2 separate regions of the Homo sapiens genome follow, and region 1 is linked to region 2. Evidence: fine-mapped expression QTL. A gene starts in region 2. The other region holds a variant in brackets. All regions are shown on one strand. Distances are between the middles of the regions.

Region 1 (2,922 bases), 64 kb before region 2:
TGTCATCTTTGCCTCCCTTCTTATCTCATCACCTCTTTGATCTCATGTACTACTCCTGTTCAGCTCACTGGCCTCCTGATTGTTTCTTGAGCATACCATGCCTTAGGGCCTTTTCACTGGCTACTGCCTCTGGCTGGAAGCTACCTCCTCACCTTCCCCACCCTACTCCAGGAGCTAACTCTCTCACTTCTCTCAAGTCTTTGCCCAGATGGCACCTTCTCAAGGAGATGTACCACAACAACCTATTTAAAATTGCAACTCCCTCTCCATCACATATTTACCAACCCCTTACCTTCTTCTATTATTTTTTCCATAGCATTTGCCAACTTCTAACATATTATCTAATTTACTTACTTATTATGGCCCTTGTTAATTGTCTCCCACGACCTCAGAAAAACTATAAGCCCCACTGGTCCCCTTCATGCTAACTACTCCCCAGACACAAATACTCTACTTTTGCTTTTAGCTGTTTCTTCTGGTAATCACCTTCATATGTCTAAAGCACCTTCTTATATTTTTTCCAGTTTTAGATATTACTTATTGACTCATAAGGATTTAGGAATATAGATTTCACTTTTTTATACCACCCATCCCACACACACACCTCCAAAGTTCTTCATTTCATCCTTCCAATGTATTGATTTCACTCATTCTGGTTAAATAAATATTCAGTATTACATTAGTATAACCATGTAAACATTATAAATGGTTTTCCACATGAATTGTGATTATGTGTTCTTTCTCCTACAACTTTTTGTTTTACCTGGACTTAATAATTGCTTCGGTTTTTCATTTGCTTCACTTTCTAGGTACCTATCACTAAATCATCCCTAAAATTCTCTACCAGATCTGAAAATTCCCCTGAGTACAACTACACACATCAGATAGTCTGTCCATTTCATTTTGGGAGCATGTTATGCCCCAGGCTTGATGATTAGCTGTTGGTCTGGAATTTCTTCCACTCTCTCCACGGTTGGAGTTCTGATTCCCAAATCTCAGGTCTCATCTTTCTCTTTCTTAGGTTACTCCTTGTTTGATAGAACATATCCCCAAATAGTTTCTTGAGAAAGAAAGCATGAGAGGCAAATTTTTTAGGCCTTATATGTCTGAAAATGAAAGCTTGGGTGGCTATAGAATCTATTGACCATCTTAATCTGTTTATTAAAAATCTTATTACAATTCTGATTTGGCCACTACACACTGTATACATGTATTAGAAAATCATTCTGTATTCTATAAGTATGTATCATTATTACTTGTCCACTAAAAATAAAAGAAATAAAATTGATTACAAAAACTTTCAAATAAATATGACAGTAGAAAGTTAATACAATAAACATTCATGTATTTACTCCCCAGATACAACAGTTGTTGTTCTAAACAAGGTGAATAAAAATAAATCTACTCTTAGATACATTACAGGTAAAAGGCAAAGGTTGATTTCTTTGAAATCAGCCGAAGAAGATTACAAGCAAAGGAATGGCAGTTAGGCTGAAAGCAAATATATC[G/A]ACAGCAATAATAGAAGTGGGTATGCAGTGGAATAATCTTCAAAGTGCTAAGAGAAAATAGCTGTTAACACGTGGAAATCAAAAGTTTTCCAGGCTTGAACTATACTTTGTTTGTTTTCTTTTTTCTAAAGTATGTTAAAGCAAATCCAAGATATCCTGTTATTTCACCATCATTCTTTAATATCTCAAAAATACAGTCATTTTCTTAATCACAATGCCTTTATCACTCTCAATGATGTTAACAATAATTTTCCCCCATCGTTTTGGGGCCTTGCATTTACCACTCTTGTTCATTACTACTGCTGCTGCTGCTGCTGCTGCTGCTGCTTGCTTCTCCCTTGTATTCTATTGGATTGAGCAAGATTTCTTTATTCTCTTTCTTCTTTCCTACTGATTCGTCAATTTTACATTTATTTCTATCATTTCAATAGTTACCCTTAACATTTTAATATAAATACTTGACTTAATAAAGTCTAAAGTTAGTCATTATCTCTACTTTCCTTACAAATAGTATATAGATTTGAGAACATGTTAACACTGTAACTATCTTACATGAAAATGCTGCCAGAATTTTGTTTCATTTTGCTTTCATACTACCCCTCTTTACTGATTATTGTTGTTATTTATGTAACTCATGCCTGTTTAGATATACTCACATGTTTTTGTTTTTGCTTTTTTTCTTTCTTTCTTTCTTTTTTTTTTTGAGACAAAAGTCTCACTCTGTTGCCTGGGCTTGAGTGCAGTGGCACGATCTTGGCTCACTGCAGCCTTCGCCTCCTGGGTTCAAGCAGTTCTCCTGCCTCAGCCTCTCAAGTAGCTGGTACTACAGGTGTGTGCCACCACGTCTGGCTAATTTTTGTATTTTTAGTAGAGATGGGCTTTTCCATGTTGGCCAAGCTGGTCTTGAACTCCTGACCTCACATAATCTGCCCACCTCGGCCTCCCAAAGTGCTAGGATTACAGGCATGAGCTACTGTGCCCGGCTGGATATACTCACAAGTTTACCCTTCTCTTTACTCACATTCTTCCTTGGATCCTAAGCTTTCCTTCTGGGTATGATTTCTCTCTTCCTGAAATACATCTCAGTAGCTTCTTCACCAAGAACCTTGAGTAGTAAATCTTTAGTTGCCTGAAAATAAGCTTTTTGTTTTTTGCATCCATGAATGATAGTTTAGCTGGATATCAAAATCTAGATTAACAGCTATTTTCTCTTATCATTTTGAAGATTATTCCACTGCCATCCCACTTCTGTTATTGCTGTTGATGTATTTTCTTCCAGCCTAATTGCCATTCCTTTGTACGTAATCTTTATATTTGGTTGATTTCAAGATCCTCTTTGCCTTTTACCTGTAACGTGTTTAAGAGTAGTTTTATTTTTATTCATTCTGTTCAGAACAATGTACTCAAATGTGTT
Region 2 (2,921 bases):
AGACTCTTTTAGATTAAATGAAAGCAATTTGTCCTTTTTTATGATAATTTTTATTCAAGGATGACATATATACGGAAAATTGCATAAATCATAATCTGTACACAAAATAAATCTATCTGTGTAGCCGGCACCCAAACCAAGAAACAAGCATTACCAGCATCTCTAACCTCCTCCCAGTTACTCCACCTCAAGCCCCTCAGGGTAACCAGTATCCTGACTTTTAACACTACAAATTCGTTTTGCTGTTTTTGAATTTAACATAAATGGAATAATACAGTATGTATTATTCTGTCTCTGACTTCTTTAGCTCAACATTATGTTTGTAAAATTCATCCATATTGTCTATATGATTGCAGTTTGTTCGTTCTCGTTGCTGTGTAGGTGCCGTTATATGAATAAAATCTAGCTGTCTTTTCTACTGTTTATGGATATTTGGGTTGTTTACACTCCAGGGCCATAATGAGAATGCTATTAATAGTCTCATACATGTCTTTTGGTGAACACGTGTATGCATTTTTATAACTCATTAGAATTGTTGGGTCATGGAGTAATGTTCTGCCAAACAGATGAGCCCAGAGATGTTTTCTTAAAAAAAGAAGAAGAAAAAGAAGAGGAAGAAGAAGGAGGAGGAGGAGGAGGAGGAGGAGGAAATGTAACATGTGTAAACTGACAACTGGGTATTGAACTTGTTCAACACATAAAAGAATCTGAAAACTTCCAGGACAAAGAAAAGGAGAGAACAGGAAGGGGAACAACACAGGGGAAGCCAGCTGGCAGAGGCTGTCGGCAGTGGAAACGCTAAAATTACCCATTTCATCTTCATACAACTCTGATGGACCATGAGAACTGCCTTCCTCAGACAGGGCTGAAATCTGCCCCCACTCCCATCTCTACCCTAAGGTCTGAGTCCCTGCTCTTAGGGGCCTCTGGATCTCTGAAGCCTTCACATATATAAGGATGAAACTAGAGTCAGATCTTGACTAGGCTGAGAACCTCAGCCCACCCAGCCCCCTCAGACAACATGGAGTTTCTCCGTTTCTTCCTAGCCCAGTCCCTTTTATGGCTTCTACCGAATTTATCTGAGTGTGGAGCCCAGCATTTAACCCAAGGCTCCTGGATAAGTCTGAATAGCCCCCAGAGAGGTGGGGACCTAAATTAGGGCTCATCCCAACGTCATAAGGATTTGGTTAGGCGGGGAGGGTTGCGGGTAGGGGTCGGTGGGGTGGGGTCATGGTTTACTTACCTCAGCGCCACACAGAACCACTACGCAAGCTCGGGATGGGAGCCTCCTTACCCCAACTGGAGCTTCCAGCTCTTGCAGAACAGAGAGGTAAACAACGCGGTCTCCATGACAACAAGTGACGCGTTGCCAGGGCAAAGAGGGCTGGTTCCGCCACTGAGCAGCCTGGCCAAAGGCTTAGCGCAGGCGCAAATTCTGCGGACCCCAGAGCCAGAGACCCAGGAGTGTGGCGTGTGGGAAGGGTAGGGCCAGATGCTCCGGCCACCTCAACCTACCGCGAAGACGCGGGGCACCAAGCAGAAGACAGCGGCCAAAGCCCCGAGCTGGGAGTCAGGAGACCTGCGTCTAGTCCGAGCCCTCCCGCGGGCGGGATCATCTCGGGTCGCGCTGTACCCCGGCTCTCAGACTTCCCGGCTGTACAGTGGGGTTGGGCTGGGCGATGCCTCCAGGACCTCGCAGTCGCAGGCGAAATTGAGGGTTAAAAATCAGGAAGCCAAGTTGATTGTTTCTGTAAGCTACAATGAGTTTCCTCCAGAGTTTGTATAGGTCTGTTACCACAACTGGCTTATTTCTGCGTGGGGCGCCCGATGGGGCACTCTGTGAGGGCAGGTGTGTGAGTAGAACGCCTTCAGGCAAACACTCCAGAAGTCACTCTGCATCCACTAGGAGATGGAAAATATGGGAGAAAAATTAAATCTGAGGGGATAGCTCCAGAAGATTTAATATTTGTCAAGTAGGACTTCCAGAAGGAAAGAAAAAAAGAGAGAGAATGGCAAAACAATTGTGAAAGTGAGAGAGAGATAACTTGAGCCAAAGACTCAAGTCTTTAGATTAACGACCCACCTGAAATTAACACACACCCCCATTCCTTACATATAGTCCTCCCTGTGGATTATGCATATAATCCATAGAGTGATTAGCTCCAGGATCCCCCTCAGATACTGAAATCTGCAGATTCTCAAGTCTCATATAAAGTGGTGTAGCATTTGTATATAACCTACGCACATCCCTAGATAGGCATACTTTACGTCATCTCTAGATTGCTACAATACCTAATACAATGCCTAATACAATACCTAATATAGTGCCTAATACAGTGCCTAATGCAATACATAATACAATACATAATACAACACCTAATACCTAATATAATACCTAATACAATGCCTAATACAATACCTAATACAATGTCTAACCATGCCTACTCATCGCTTCATTCGCATGGATTCAACATAGCACTCAGGGTGCAACAAATTCAAGTTTTGCTTTTTGGAGCTTTGTGGAATTTTTTTCCTGAATATTTTTTATTTGTGTGTCATCGCATCCAAGGATGTAGAATCCACGGATAGGAAGGGCCAACTTTATACCTATTCTGGTGGAATTTCTTAATTCAAAGAATAAGAAGAAAAAGAAAGAATAGGTATCAAGTGTTTCGTCTCTAACACAGGTGGCTAGAAATGATGGTTGCTAGAAATGATGCTAGGATAATGCCTTCAAATTCTATAGAAAATTATTTCAAATCTGGGATTCTACAACCAGTCAAAGCATTTCATGTATGAGAGCAAAATAAAAGATTTCTTTGGACATGCCAGTACTCAAAACGGTGAGCGTACATTCTTTATGGAAAAAAATAATAGAGCAAAAGTGAAAAATCCAGAAAGAAGAAGATACTGGACATAAG

Direction of the effects. Alleles are on the strand shown, and positions count from the first base shown. SD is a standard deviation of normalised expression in the study named.
As copies of A replace G in region 1, the expression in monocytes after R848 of the gene that starts at base 1,324 in region 2 goes up (large effect, 0.78 SD a copy in Quach 2016).

Evidence for each region. PIP is the estimated chance that this variant, and not a neighbour inherited with it, causes the effect. A credible set is the group of variants that fine-mapping cannot tell apart.
Region 1: its variant is the best candidate, but not a certain one, in a credible set for the expression of TEKT1 in monocytes after R848 (Quach 2016, PIP 0.82).

The regions. Positions count from the first base shown.
Region 1 is chr17:6,765,930-6,768,851 of GRCh38, forward strand. The region is part of intron 5 of XAF1 (XIAP associated factor 1); the gene reads left to right. Among named protein-coding and RNA genes, the nearest start is that of FBXO39, 8.8 kb to the right of the region's middle. The variant G/A (reference allele first, on the strand shown) is at 1,509.
Region 2 is chr17:6,830,406-6,833,326 of GRCh38, forward strand. It overlaps TEKT1 (tektin 1), which reads right to left and starts at 1,324. Exons shown (of 8, transcript NM_053285.2): 1 at 1,244-1,324. RefSeq lists a silencer at 1,287-1,336.